Linked DNA regions of Homo sapiens: region 2 is linked to region 1. Evidence: fine-mapped expression QTL. Tissue or cell type: subcutaneous fat. Region 1 holds a variant in brackets; the other region holds the start of a gene. All regions are shown on one strand. Distances are from middle to middle.

Region 1 (8,000 bases):
CTAACCATATGTAGAAAGCTGAAACTGGATCCCTTTCTTACACCTTATACAAAAATTAATTCAAAATAGATTAAATACTTACATGTTAGACCTAAAACCATAAAAACCCTGGAAGAAAACCTAGGCAATACCATTCAGGACATAGGCATGGGCAAGGACTTCATGACTAAAACACCAAAAGCAATGGCAACAAAAGCCAACATTGACAAATGGGATCTAATTAAACTCAAGAGCTTCTGCACAGCAAAAGAAACTACCATCAGAGTGAACAGGCAACCTACAGAATGGGAGAAAATTTTTGCAACCCACTCATCTGACAAAGGGCTAATATCCAGAATCTACAATGAACTCAAACAAATTTACAAGAAAAAAACAAACAACACCATCAAAAAGTGGACAAAGGATATGAACAGACACTTCTCAAAAGAAGACATTTATGCAGCCAAAAGACACAGTAAAATGCTATCATCACTGGCCATCAGAGAAATGCAAATCAAAACCACAATGAGATACCATCTCACACCAGTTAGAATGGCGATCATTAAAAAGTCAGGAAACAACAGGTGCTGGAGAGGATGTGGAGAAATGGGAACACTTTTACACTGTTGATGGGACTGTAAACTAGTTCAACCATTGTGGAAGTCGGTGTGGTGATTCCTCAGGGATCTAGAATTAGAAATACCATTTGACCCAGCAATCCCATTACTGGGTATATACCCAAAGGATTATAAATCATGCTGCTATAAAGACACATGCACACGTATGTCTACTGCGGCACTATTCACAATAGCAAAGACTTGGAACCAACCCAAATGTCCAACAATGATAGACTGGATTAAGAAAATGTGGCACATATACACCATGGAATACTATGCAGCCATAAAAAATGATGAGTTCATGTCCTTTGTAGGGACATGGATGAAGCTGGAAACCATCACTCTCAGCAAACTATCACAAGGACAAAAAACCAAACACTGCATGTTCTCACTCATAGGTGGGAAATGAACAATGAAAACACATGGACACAGGAAGGGGAACATCACACACCGGGGATGGTTGCATGGTGGGGGGATGGGGGAGAGATGGCGTTAGGAGATATACCTAATGCTAAATGACGAGTTACTGGGTGCAGCACACCAACATGGCACATGTATACATATGTAACAAACCTGCAGGTTGTGCACATGTACCCTAAAACTTAAAGTATAATAATAATAATAATAAAAAGGAAAGAAAATGGAAAAACCAGGTACTTCACATAAAGTGCCAAATAGTTCTTTGGAAAGGTGGGAGGAATTTTTGGGGCCAGTTTGCGCATGCCTAGAATTGTCAGTTGGCAGGGTCATGGGCATGGGATCCAAACCAAATTAAAGCTGTAGAAAGCTAAAAAAAAAAAAAAAAAAAAAAAAGAGTGAGAAAAGTTTGTGCCTTTGGAATGGCTGGAGAGAGTTGCATTCACTCTACTATATTTTCAACTGCTAGATAGCATCTCCAAGAACAACAGAAAGATGCTGCAAAAAGCCGAAGACTCAGGTTGGTGAATTTCCTCTGACAGGAGGTAGCCTCGGCTATGTCATTACTGGATACCTGACATTGATAACATCACTCTCCTGCCTGGGTAACAGAGTGAGACCTTTCTCAAACAAACAAACAAAAAGAAAGAAAGTAAGAAATTTAAGGTAGCATCACTGAGGCACTATTTTCTCCTAAAACAGGGAGCAGCAAAAGCCATAGTTGAGTTTGAATGCCATAGATGCCTGAAGTAGCCCTATAAGGTCCCAGAAAGATTACTTTAGCCAACGCCCAAACAGAACTCTTTCTCCTCTGAAGCTGCATTGCTTCCCACTCTTTTTATATGCAGTGTTTAGTTTTAGTTTTAATATGTTTGTGTTAGTTTTAGTAAAAGAAAGCGGCTACTCATGAGGCAAACTTGCAACTAGCAAACTCATTGAGAAGCTCTGTCCTAAAGCTATACTGCTCACCGCAAAATATCTTACAAGTTTTTATGAATTAGGTCTAATTATAGAGCAGTGAGTACCTATAGTTTGTATCAGAAGTTTTCTTACTCCTCTTTGATTAAACCTGTCTCTATTATATACACACACACATACACAAAAAGTTTGAGATCAGGTCTGATGCAATTTTGTATTCCCCACTCTAATGCTTTGGATATAATAAGTTATCAGTAAGTGCTATTATATTGTAGGGCCAGCCTTTCAATTAAAAGATGGGAAAGGTTAGAAAGTAGCTACCTAAGCTAATGAAATTGTCTTCTTCCTTATTCATTCTTCTATTCTCCAAACATTGATTCAAGCCAAGCTTGAGAGCTTTGCTGATTTAATTCAATTCACTTTAGTTCTCACTTTAGTATATATCAATGAATTGATTCATCCATCCAATATTTTTTAAGCATAATATGTTCCAGGCACTGTTCTAAGTGTTGGGGAATACTAATAAGCAAGGCAAACAAGGTTCTTGACAATTTGGGACTTATTTCCATGGGGAAAACAAAATACAAACAAGTTTTTACAATATATTTATTTATGGCCATGTGGTTATGTAGACATTTCTGAAAGAGTGAAGACATTTGAGCTGAGACCCAAGTGAAGTGAGAGGGAGCAAGCCAGGCAAAGGTATGAGGGAAGGACAACCAAGAAAAGAAGCATGCCCAAGAGAAGAACATGCCCAAAAGGAGAAATACACAGCTTCTGAGATGGGAAAATCTTGAAATGTTTGAGACAGTGTAGCTGGAGCAGCATGAATGAGGGAAAGAATAGTGGAAAATGAGCCTTAAAAGATCACAGGGGCCTTGTAAACATGGCTCTGTATGTAACAGAAAGTGATGTAAGGGTTTTAAGCAAGCAGGTCACATGATCACTGTGGCTATAAGATCATACTGAAAGTGGGGCAAGAATGAAAGCTTACATTTTTCACTTATATGTGGAAGCTGAAATAATCGAACTCATAGAAGAAAAGTATGGTTACAGAGGCTGGGGAATGGGGAGGATGGGGAGATGAGAATCAAAGGGTACAAAATCTCAGACAGAAAGAATATGTTTTGTTTTTCTTTTTTGAGTTCTATTGCTCAGTATGATGAACGTAGTTAATAATAGAATATCATACATTTCACAATTGCTAAGGAAGTAAATTTCAAATATTCTCTCCACAAAAAATGCTAAGTATTTGAGGTAATGGATATGTTAACTAGCTTAATTTAATTATCCCACATTATATTCATAAATTATAACATAACTTTGTATCCCACAAATTTTGTATATAATTCTAAGTTTTCAATTTACAATTTTTAAAAACAGTGGAAGCTTAGGAGTCTTTGCAATCATCCTAGTGAGAGATGATAGGTGGTATCTTGAATGACAGGTGTAGCAGTGGAGGTGATGAGAAGTGGTCATATTTGACACACGTTTTGAAAGTAAGCCAACAGATCGTCATATGATGAGGAAGGAAATAAGAGAGGAATCAAGAATGAGTCCTAGGTTTGAGATCTGAGCAACTTAATGCAGTGTAAATGGTGCAATTTAATGAGATGAGGCAGGCTGGGGCAGTGAGTGGGGTTGGGGCAGAGCAGCTTTGGAAGGAAAAATCAAAATAATGTGTTTGTGATGCCTGTGATGAATACAACTGGAAATTCAAGGCAATTAAATATATGAGTATGGAGATTAAAAAGAGTCACCGTTGAAGATATACATTTGGAAGTCATTAGCAGAGGTTTTGTTTGTTTGTTTTGTTTTTGCAACAGGGTCTCATTTTGTCGCTCAGGCTAGAGTGCAGTGGCACAATCATGGCTCACTGCAACCTCAACTTCCTGGACTCAATCAATCCTCCCCCCTCAGCCTCCTGAGTAGCTGGGACTTCAGGTGCGCATCACCATGCCCAGCTAATTTGTTGTATTTTCTGTAGCGTCAGGGTTTCACCATGTTGCCCAGGCTGGTCTTGAACTCCTGAGCTCAAGCCATCTGCCTACCTTCGTCTCCCAAAGGTCCGGGATTACAAGCGTGAGCCACTATGCCTGGCCAGCAGAGATTTTGTTTATTCCCATTGGATGC[T/C]ATGTGTTCAAAACAACCCATTTAAAAATAGCTTCACTAGAAAATCCAAGAAAAGGGAGAAGCTGGAAAGAGAAAATTAAGCACCTTGACCATCCCAAACAGAAGCAGAGAGGATTAAGAGAGATAGTATAATGGGTACAAATATACAGTTAGATAGAAGGATTAAGTTCTAATATTAAATAGCAGAATAGGGTGACTATGATTAACAACAATGTATTGCATATTTCAAAATAGCTAGAAGAGAGAATTTGAAATATTCCCAACATATAAAAATGATAAATGCTCAAGATGGTTGATATCCTAAAAACCCTGATTTGATCATTACACATTCTATGCATGAAACAAAATATTACATGTACCCCATAAATATGTACAAATACTATGTATCAGTGAAATAAATAAATAAAATTGAAATAAGGAAAAAAGAAGCAGATTAGCAAGTGAATGGCCAGAGCAAACTATACGAATCTGGAAGAAAATGCCCACAGGTACAGAGATGGAGACATTCGCAGATGGATGTGGGCTGGGGCATGCTGAAAATCGCCAGGAACATGGGCAGGGCTTATCATCAACTGCTAGGGATGCCCACAGGGTCGGAAGTATTTCCAACATGAGCATCTTACTTTCTAGGCTTCTAAAAGTTGGAGTTTGGCCTGATAGAACCTCACCAGGGTTCTAGTGTGAAAACAGGGGTGAACAACCTCACAGTCTCCAGAAGTGGGGCAAGGCAGGTGTTGTAAATGGATGAAGAGGACCAGGAGTGGGACAGCAATAAGCAGGAAGATTGTAGAAAAGTGGAGGATTTCAGCCTCATCCACAGGAGGCGGCCAATTCACACCAAAAGTCAATGGTTGCTAAGTGGGAGTGAGGTCCAGTGCTGCCAGAAATACACACACACACACACACACACACACACACACACACACAAAGAAAAGGGAATTTAGTTTGATGACTTTGATTAATCACCATTACCCTTCCAACCGAATGATCCCTTGTGGTTAAATAGAGAAAGAAGGATCCATTATTGCATTATTGACTCACTGATTCTTTTTTTTTTTTTTTTTTTTTTTTGAGACGGAGTCTCACTCTGTCGCCCAGGCTGGAGTGCAGTGGCACGATCTCTGCTCACTGCAAGCTCCGCCTCCCGGGTTCACACCGTTCTCCCGCCTCAGCCTCCTGAGTAGCTGGGACTGCAGGCGCCCACCACCACGCCTGGCTAATTTTTTATATTTTCAGTAGAGACAGGGTTTCACCGTGTTAGGCAGAATGGTCTCAATCTCCTGACCTCGTGATCCGCCCTCCTTGGCCTCCCAAAGTGCTGGGATTACAGGCGTGAGCCACCGCGCCCGGCCAACTTACTGATTCTTTACCTGGCCCCCAACATACCCAACCAGCCTTCTTCCCTCCTGCAAAATAAAGAATTCACGTCCACTGGCAGGGAAGTGTGAATCACTGTGATAAAGGTGGAAGCATACAGTCAGTCCAGAAAAGAAATGGTGTTTGGATAATCTGTGAACCTTGAAATTAGCTTGTTCAAGAGAACTTTGTTCACTGACTGTACAGATCCTTGAAGATAATATGAACCGAGTGAGATGTAACAGTGCACGAATTTCCCTAAAAGAAGGACAGAAAGGCTTGGTGTGTCCTTGGCTGCACCTTTATTTTCCTGCTAGGCAAGTTCTTTCCCATAGGCTCTGCTTAATGTGTTGCAAGAGAGTTTACACCAACCATGATCGTCATTTGATTGGAACCTGTGCTTTATCATGTTTGCCTGGACAAGCCTTGAGAAAGAGCCTGGCCTGAAAACTAATATTAAAAAAAATTGATTAGTGAGGCAAGCAAGGAATGGATAGTATTAATATATTAATAGAGGTGATAACACTGGCCTCCACGAAGAGTTCACTTATTGACCCCTCTGACTGTGTTTTATTCAAAGTAGTGAATAAACATATCCTCCATTAATCAACTTAACTACCTGGTTTGTCATTCCAAGGGCACACTAACATATTGCATGAAATCTATCTTTTAGAGACCTGCTATGACACTGTTAAATATAGAAATGAATTTGGCAAATATAGCCATGGAGCATTCTTATTGAAAATCTAACAAGATATTTTGATTAGGGCACAATATCAACAAAAGAGAAGCCCCCAGTGCATTTTCTCTGTGTGTTAGAAACCTCTCTTATCAACCAAAGTACAGTATTGGGTTTGTTTCTTTGTGAAATTTCTTTGTGACTGAAACTTCCTATTAAAGTAGTTCTTTGTCTTTATACTTGTGAGCAAAACAAGCGAGAAACGAAAAAAACGTTTTCCTTGAGTTAACACAATGGACTTCAACCTCAGCTGCTTTATTCAGCTCCACTTCTTTTTCTGTGATGAAACCAGTGATTAGAGCTGCCCTTGGAGCTCAAGTTTCCAAGGTGGACAGGCAGCAACCACTTGAGAATTTTCTATCCTAAGATTGTTGGCTGTCCATGAAATTTGCAGAAAGCAAAGGGAAGAATGAAGTTGTGGCAGAACTAGGAACTATTAGAATGAGAGTTTGTTCAAGTAACGAGACAGTTCTAAAAGAGAGGGTGGTTAAAGGACCTTGTATCTTGAGATCAGGAATGCAGTGGTCATGTTCACTAAATATTATTTAATGAATTAATTAATGAATGGATGGAAAAGTCACTTCAGGCTAAGAATCTAAGCACCACTTTCCATGCCATAGGAGGAATGCTGGGCAGACTGATGTCTAGATAGATAAGTGATCAAGAAGTTTCTTGGATTAGCAATCAATGGAGGATGACTCTTGAGGAACTTTGGTGTGGGGACAAAAGGAAATATGACAGGGATCCAGTTATCAGAACTGGGGTGAAAGATGAGGGCTTCTATCATAACTTCAATATAGAGTCAGAGTGGAGTCAGCGGGCAGATGTCTCTCGGCTTGGAGCTAATTATTTTCTCCTTGATTACAGTGGAGTCTGGGGCAGAGCTAATCTTATCAGTAATAGAGATCTGCTCCACCTTGGAAAGTTGGTGAACAAACTGGTAAGGGAGCCAGACTGGTCATGATATTATATTCTCAAAAGTTCCTGTAGCCAGTTTTATGGCATAGAACTACCAGGACACAGAGGTACCTCTTCTTTGGTCAAGAGTAAGAGCATAGACCTTGGATTTAGGCAAAAGTTTCAGCTTCTTCATCTAACATTACCCTGGAGATAGTAATACAGCCTCTTTGTATGTAAAGCATGTAATGTGCTTAATACTGTGCCAACCTTATACTAAGTTGCACCAAAAAAAATGCTATTGCTGTTATTATTATTTCAGGGATTATAGAGGGATGCCAGACTCATCATCTCATTTAGCCCACCTAACACTCCTTGAGGTAGTACTGCTATTACCACATGTATATTAATGAGAAACTGAGAATCCAAGAGATTATGTAACTTGCTCAAAGTTACATAGTTAATGCATGGGGGAAATGCTATCTCAAATCAGTTCGTCTGACAGCAGAACCCTTACTCTTACAGTATACTGATCCTTGAAATTATAAAACCATAACTGAGTCTTGAGTCCTTTTTGGAATCTCACATGGTCCCTCCAAGATGGGTCCTCAGACAATGCTGTACATCACCACATGGGGTTAACAGGCAACCCCGCACTAACACTGACTCTTCAGTGGTCACTAAAGGGCAAAAATTAGCTCTGCTCTAAATCTGTTCCAAGTGGCAGGTGAACTTCTGGCTCTCTCTCAAGAGAACTCAAAACATACATTCCTATAGAAGATTAGTGAGAAAAGCATTCAGCTATGCATGAGGGCTCTTCTGTAACTACATCAGGCTTGAATCCAGTTCTGCTGGTCTCTGGTTTGTCAATGACATGTTGTTTAGTATTGAGTTCCCTAGCCCTAGAGCACCCAGCTAAAGGCCCTGAGATAAGATGAATGCTA
Region 2 (8,147 bases), 150 kb after region 1:
ACATATAGTCACCCCTCAGTAACCTCAAGAATTGATTCCAGGTTCCACACAGATACCAACATCCACATATACTCAAGTCCTTTATGTAAAATGGTGTAGTATCTGCATATATCCTCCCAAATAGTATAAATCATCTCTAGATTACTTATAATACTTAATACAATGTAAATGCTATATGAACAGTAATCCTTTATTATTTGTATTTTTTTGTATTATTTCTTTCTGAATATTTTCTATTCATGATTGGTTGAATCCATATCAATCTGAAACCCATTGATATGGAGAGCCAACTGTATATATATCCATGTAACCACCACCTAGATGAAGATATATACCTAAAGCGAGATTTGAAAGTTTTATTGAAAAAGAAAAAGAAAAAGAGATTAAGTACTACTGCTCCTCTAAACCAAGAGGCTTTTATCTACTTAAATTTTATTTTCATACCTCAAATTCATCTTGAGTACTTTGAACATTGCACCATCTGGCAACAGGTTCAGGAACCACTTCCCAATCTTCACACAATTGTTTAAGGATATTCACAAATGTTGACTTCCCTGCAGCTGTTGTGAGGAAAGATAAAATTGAGGAAGAAAAGTTGTCAGGAAAAAAAGATGTCAAGTAGTCATTAGCTTTTGCAAGATTTACAATAGCAAGCAACATAAAAAGCCCAAAACATTCAACTTTCTAAACTTTCTCTTCATATTTCTTTAGAAGAAAATGAAAAGGCTCCCTGCCCAATTTCATTAAGCACATTTGTTTTTTATTACGTTTAGTTTAACAATATATTATATTTAATAGTAGGGACAGTCTTGACCTAGAAGTAATACTCCTAATGGCCACCACACCCTTTATATCTGAAGTCACCAAATGTGGTTGTATTAGACATCTCTGGTTAGCATAATGTTCTCTCTCTTTCCCTGTGTGTGCGTGCACACACACACAGATGAACATATAAATAACTTCAATATACTTACAAGCAAAGCTTCCTCTTCCTTATAAATTAGATCCATGGGGAGTAGAAAGAACTTACCTTTGACTTGCAGAACTATATTTAAATCTAGGACATTAGACAGGGCAATAGAAAAGAAGAAAAACCTGGAAGAACTTTAAAGAATTACACACAGAGAAAAAACAGGAGCGAGGCAGTAAAGAAGGTGACACAGGTAGACAGTTTAGAAGAAAAACACAAAGTAAACTGTATCCAGAGGAGAGGAGAAAAACTTTTAACGATAAACTGGATAACAGTGAGATTTAATCATGGTAAAAACACTGGCCACCAAAATTTAGTATGGAGAGTGTAAGCTTAGGGACTGTACAGCATTTAGAAGAATGTTAAGTGGAAGTGAAAGCATATAGAAAGAACACCCCACATTCACTGAGCTAGATGGAAGAGGGAAAGGAGAACATGATGTTCAGAAATAGCACCCAAGGAACAAATAAAAAAATTAGGCATCCACCAGAGTCTGAAAGCACTTAAGGCTACAGCATTCAACTTTCTTCTGACACTGCTTACAAGCAGAAAAATTCATATGGTCATACTTAAAAAGTCTAAGAGTAATAACAGTTACATTTAGTTCAAGCAGAGTAATAACAGCTAGAGTTCCCAATCACACTAACACATCTAGTTCCTTAACTTATTGGGGCAAAGTGGGAGCTAGAAAATAAGCTAATTAATAAATTAATTTTCTATGAAGGCAAAGGAGAACAAGAACCAAAGACACTGATGTTAATACTTTAAAAAGTCATGGAAACTAACAGAATTCCTAATGCCAAGCAGGCATTATAATGCTGAAAGTCATTCTGAACAGACTATTAAGATGAGAAGCAGGTAAGTCCTCCATCAATCTAACATAAGGGAACATTTGAGTAACACAGAACATAAGAAGATGGGTTATATAAATATAAAACTAAAACGACCAAGTAAAGTTCAAATTCTAGGAAAAATAGAGGAATTGCAAAATAGTTTACGCACAGCTTAACAATTTGTGCATTTACAGCTTATTTGGATCTGGCAAATAAGGTGAAGGAGACATGAACAAAAGTGCAAGACCAATAATGAACAGTAACTAACAAAGTCTCAGTGTCAGGGAGACGAAAAATGGCAAGGAACATGCTCCATCTAAACACCAATTGTTGTCATACAGAAATGCAGGCCCGGTGTTAACAGATCTTCAGATTTTTCAAAAGAAGCCAAGAATCTAATTGTTTATGGGAAATCTCAAAACGTTTTCGAGTTAGCAACAAATTTAATTTTTTTTTCTTTAGACACAGGGTCTCACTCTGTAGCCCAGGCTGTAGGGCAGTGGCACAACCACAGCTCACGGCAGCCTCAAACTATAGGTCTCAAAGATCTCCACCTCAGCCTCCTGAGTAGCTAGGACTAAACGTGCATGCTAACACAACTGGCTTTTTTTTTTTTTTTGAGACTCTGTCACCCAGGCTGGGGTGCAGTGGTGCCATCTCAGCTCACTGCAACTTCTGCCTCCCACATTCAAGTGATCCTCCCACATCAGCATCAGCCGCCTGAGTAGTTGGAGCTACAGGCGTGATCCACTGTGCCTGGCCTAATTTTATTTTTATTTTTCTTAGAGACTAGTTCTCACTATGTTGCCATGCTAGTCTCAAACTCCTGGCCTCAAGCAATCCTCCTGCCTCAGCCTCCCAAAGCACTGGGATTACAAGCTTGAGCCACTGGCCAGTAAAATTTTTTTTCAACCTGTGCAGGCCAATATTGTGCAATTGCAGGCTATCAGTTCACAACTACTTTCAGTGTAGGTAAAGGCAAAATCAGTGAAGAATTTTAAGCAGGGGATAACACATGACATTTGCATACAAAAAGACCGTTGCAGAAGTAGTTAAGAGAAACTGGAGATGGGATGATATATTAGGAAATTATTTCAGCTGCTGAAAAGATTAAAGATGCTTTGAGGAAATATTTCTAAATATGATGCTACCTAACTGGATTGGAGAGAGGGAAAGGGGATGAATGTATTGTGGTATTGATCCGAGGGGTTATTCATTCAACTTTACTGTTTTGTTTCTGTGTTTTTAACAGAGTCTTGCTCTGTCACCCAGGCTAGAGTGCAGTAGTGTGATCATGGCTCACTGTGGCCTTGATCTTTGGGCTCAAGCAATCCTCCTGCCTCAGCCTCCTGAGTAGCTGGAGGCACACCAACACATGCAACTAATTTTTTAATTTTTTTGTGGAGATGAGTTCTCACTATGTTGCCCAGGCTGATCTGGAACTCCTGGACTCAAGTGATCCTCTTGCCTAAGCCTCCCCAAATCCTGGGATTACAAGTATGAGCCTCCATGCCCTGCCTCAAATTTACTTTTCAGATGGCTTTGTTCAGCCACTTTCTCCTGTCTTTATATATGGTCTTCTTTATTCAGTAAGCAGCTGTCAGAGATTCCATACTAGTAAACATGCACCCTCAAATAACTTACATTGCTAATTATATCATATGGTCTTTCTACTGGTGCTTTAATTCTGGAGCAATGAAATAAGAAGTCCTCTTTGAGAATGCAGTTTTTCTATTCATTTGAATGCTTAAAGCATCTGCTTGCCTGGCCTTTTTCAAGAAGGTACAGTGCTTTGAATGTGGTAAGAATTTTAAAAAATTTGCTGTATGCATGAATGACCAGCACCCAACCTGGAGCTAAAAAAATTTTTTTTTAAATCTATCAAAACAGGAAGTTTCAGGGGTAGGTTTCCTGTGGTTGGAGATACAGAAGAATCGGACGTTGGTGTGTATCTTGCAAAGTGACAGGCATGGCCTAGTCTGCCCCCCATCTGAGTTAACAGAAACGTTAGTGGTCTTTGAATCATAATCCAATGTTTACTTGGATGTGGAGTAAGGGGTGAGGAACTCCATGCTATTAAGATCATTAAAGACCTCTTTGCTTGTACTCGAATGTTTCGAGTTTCGTTAATAATATAGCTAAAACAATGCTTCGCTAATAATATAGCTAAAAAACTGTAAACAACCCTGAGGTCCACAACTAGAAAATGGATAAACGATGGTACATCCATGCAATGGAATACTACTCAGCAATAAAAAGAAACAAACTACAGACACAAGTAACATGAATGAATTTCAAAAGCATTATGCTAAATGAAAGACGCCAGACACAAAAGGCGATATAGCCTATGATTCCATTTATATGGCATTCTGGAAAAGGCAACACTTGCAGGGATAGAAATCAAATCAGTGGGTGCCAGGGAATAGGAAGGGTGGAGGGGGCTGAATACAAAGGAGCAGGTAGGAACTTTCTAAGGTGATGAAAATGTTCTGTATCTCGATCATGGTGATAGCAAAAGGCATAATGTTTGTCAAACCTCATAGAAGAGTACACCTAAAAAGGGTGAATTTAATGTAAGTTACACCTCAAGAAATCTAATACCCTTCCCCCGCTTCCCTTTGCGAGTTCCCAACAAAGAGGGAGCAGAGGTTCAAAGCGCGCCTCACAGAGACCGCAGGCCTGGCGCCCAGTCTGACCCCGGGGACCGCAGTCACCCCGTGGAGCGGGAGGTAAGGGAAGGATGCTCTGGGTGGGAAAGGAAGCCGAGGCCGCGTCCACACCGCCAGGCTGGAGGGAAAGCCCTCACCGAGTTGCTGCAGAGAGATGCGGCGAAGGGAAGCTTCAGCCACTGCCGCGACACCCCAGCCTTGCGTCCCACATTTCCGGAGGCTCCTTACCGATGTTCCCTTCGATGGAGATTTTCTTGATGCGGGTCCCCTCAGAGCTGGCTGAGAAAGACGGGCAGCTTCTCTTGGGCGGGGTGGCCATTCCTTAGTCTTGTGGCGGCCCAGAGCTCGTCCGGCAAAGAGGGCTGGGAGGCGGCCACGGGTGCGCGCACTGGAGCTCGCGGCGCCGCTAAGCCAGATCCTGACCTGCCGGGTCAGCTAGTGAGCTCACCGGCCCGCCGGCGGGTGTCGGGGTTTGACTTTGGCGCGCGGAGGCAGCTGAGGACACTGGCGGGCCTGCGGGGCGGCCCCGCCCTCCTCAAGCCGCGCTCCCTAGCTGCCCCTCGGCCCTCGCCCGCCTCCAGCGCGGGTTCCCGCGTGCGCGCTCCGCACGCCAGGTCACGTGAAGGCCGGGGCGGGGCCGCGCGTGTGGCGGAAGGCCTCTACCCCAAGCAGCCAGGCGCCCGGGCAGGGCGCGGGAAGAGGTTCCGGAGTCGGGTGGGGAGGAAGGGTGGACCCCAGAGGCCTGAGGGCGCTGGAGGGCAGAGGGCGTCACCTGCAGTGGGCCGTGCCAGGCTTTGGAAAACCCGCCTCTCTAGTGGGCCTGTTGGAGATGAACAGACGCGTCTGGACAGAACTGGATAGACTTAAAGCTTTGAACTCATCTGGGGAGAAGGCACTGTGTGGTAGGAAAATCAAATGGATTTACTCTGGCTTCTCAGCCTAGAGGAAGACTATCAGGCGAAGTGCCGTCCTTGGGAATCGCACTGCCCACTTAGAGAGCCAGGCTGTTTTCTTCTATGTGCTTTTCATTAATTAACGAAGTCTAGTGCCAGAAATACCGTCATTAGCCCATTTACCTGCCAGTGGGAAAACAGGCACTGAGAGGCTGCTTGTTCCAAGTGTCAAAGTCAGTAAGTGAAACTGGGATGGGAATTTAGGTAGTCAGATGCCACCCACAGGAGGCCTTTCCAGATCTCCCATACCGCTTTCCATTTGATTTGGATGCACGACCATGCTGTATAGAAGTTAGCACGTTGGGTAGGTAGGTTTCTGTTCAGCTGTTAACTCAGCCTGCCCGACACCTGGCACATAGGTAACAAAATGTACTGTATGTTGAATTTTTGAATGCCTACTCATGTGCCATGTACTCTGCTAGAATACTCATCTAGATGGGACAAATGCAGTGTAGGATTTGTCCCAGCTAGATGAGTGCATTTTTAGTCAGGGTAAAGACCTAATGAGGCAAGAGAATAGGGAATTAGGGTAACCAAGGGTTAAGGCATAAGCAAAAGAACAGCAGGTGCAGCAATTTCTAGGCAAGACTAGGCAGCATACAGGCCACACCTTCACTCCTGTGATTACAAGACAGAAGTTTCCACATCGCCTCTGATTGTCCTCGGCCATCTCCATTTCAGCCTCTGATTGGTCGCAGGCCAATCCTTCATAGGGTGCAACCAATTGGACGACTGTAAAGGGCACCTAGGGATTTACCAAATTCTTTTAGCCTAGTAACCCTTAAGAACACTGCAATTGGGACTCTTGAAGCACTTGGTTCGCTTCAATAAATTTGTGCTTTTGTTACTTCGTTCTTTTGTTGTTTTGTCTTTCGTTGCTTCTTTTGTTGCTTTGTTTCTACGTTTTGTTCAATTCTTTGTTCAACACGCCAAAAACCCAGACAACTCAGTCAAGACTTCCCATCCAGTAACACTAATAAACCGGATATTACCCAGTCTGGAAGTTATCTGGTCCAAATTGTCTACAGAAACCAAAGGCCTTGCTATTCTTTTTTACATTGCAACTATCATCAGACCTGAAATGCATCTAAATGTGTAGCCAGAAGGGGAAAACGGTGACTCCATCCTCAGAAATAAAGAGCAGAAATTAAAATGTGAATCCTCGGGGATCACATTTTCCAGGATTAAACAGCAAGAATCATTCTATGTAACTGCCCTATATTATTCTGTTATGCAATTATTTTGTATATATTACTTTTACTTATCCCTATAGTGATTAATAGCAAGATCCTAGGAATATAAGAGGCCTGAAGAGTTGTCATCAGGTATAGCAAGGAAGTTGGGAGAAAGGTGCTGCGGAAGCTAATAGGTATCACATTTCACAGCCAAGCTTGGGGGAAAACTCATGAAATGGTAAGAGTACTGGCAGCTACCGAGAGGAGGAAGGCAAGTCTCTTGAGACCTTCAACAGGAAAGCAGAGCTGGTCCTGGATGGATGTCATAAAGAGGCTTGGGGTTAAGGAGTAGAAATCTCCAAGTGTGGTTTCCACAAAAAAGACCCACACAAGAAGTATCTTACAATGATGAAGAGTTTAAGCACTGGAAAATGAAAGATTTCAAACACCAGTTCTACCAGTTTCTGGCTGCAAAAACTTGAATTCATCTGAGCTTAAGAGTATACTTTGAAAAATACAAATGTGGGAGGCCGAGGCAGGTGAATCGCTTGAGCCCAGGAGTTTGAGACTAGCCTGGGCAACATGGCAAAACTCTTGTCTCTACAAAAAATAGAAAAATTAGCCAGGCGCCTGTAGTCCCAACTATTTGGGAGGCTGAGGTGGGAGAATTACCGAAGCCAGGGAGTCAAGGCTGCAGTGAGCCAAGATCATGCCACTGTACTCCAGTGAGATCCTGTCTCAACTAACAACAACAAAGTAAATGGGGGAAGCAAAGAATCTAGCTTTTTTGGCATTAAGTCCAGCATAATTTCCCATTTTCCTACATGACCTGGGGGTAACACAAGGAGAGAACAGAGAAAAGCACTTTTCAAAACATCTTGATTTTTGGTCCACAATCTCTTATCTAAAACCCTGGCAGCCAGATGTTTCAGAATTTAAAACTTTTAGAAAAGATTTTTAGAAAAGAAATTCTAAACTTTGGAACTGGCTGGACGCAGTGGCTCTTGCCTATAATCCCAGCACTTTGGGAGGTACTCTGGAATGCTTGAGCTCAGGAATTCGAGACCAACCAGGGAAACATGGCGAAACTAATAGAAAAAATACAAAAATTAGCTGGTTGTGGTGGCACACACCTGTGGTCCCAGCTACTCAGGAGGCTGAGGTGGGAGGATGGTTTGGGCCTGCAAAGTTTTAGCTTTAGTAAGCTATGATCGCGCCACTGCATGCCAGCCTGAGTGACACAGCAGCAAGACCCCGTCTCAATAATAAAATTTGGAATCGAAACTTTAGAAACGATACAGTGCATATACTGTATATTAATTATTAAGTAAGCACCCCCACTCCCCCTGCAGAGGTGTTAAATCAAATGCACTAATATTTTGCAGTGAAACAAAGAGTGTTAACATGAAGTGGGATAAAGACTATTAACATCTGGTCAGAATAAGTTTGCACTGAATTCAAAAAAAATACCTTTGGGGCCAAGCACGGTGGCTCACGCCTGTAATCCCAACACTGTGGGAGGCCGAGATGGACAGATTACCTGAGTT

The links. PIP is the estimated chance that this variant, and not a neighbour inherited with it, causes the effect.
Region 2: DCK starts here. The variant in region 1 is fine-mapped to the expression of DCK in subcutaneous fat (GTEx, PIP above 0.99).

Annotation. Positions count from the first base shown.
Region 1 is chr4:71,136,171-71,144,170 of GRCh38, reverse strand. It overlaps a transcript of SLC4A4 not described here. Among named protein-coding and RNA genes, the nearest start is that of SLC4A4, 47 kb to the left of the region's middle. The variant T/C (reference allele first, on the strand shown) is at 4,065.
Region 2 is chr4:70,990,480-70,998,626 of GRCh38, reverse strand. It overlaps DCK (deoxycytidine kinase), which reads right to left and starts at 4,978. Exons shown (of 7, transcript NM_000788.3): 1 at 4,701-4,978; 2 at 445-560. The coding sequence starts at 4,791. RefSeq lists an enhancer at 4,553-4,732 and a silencer at 4,903-5,242.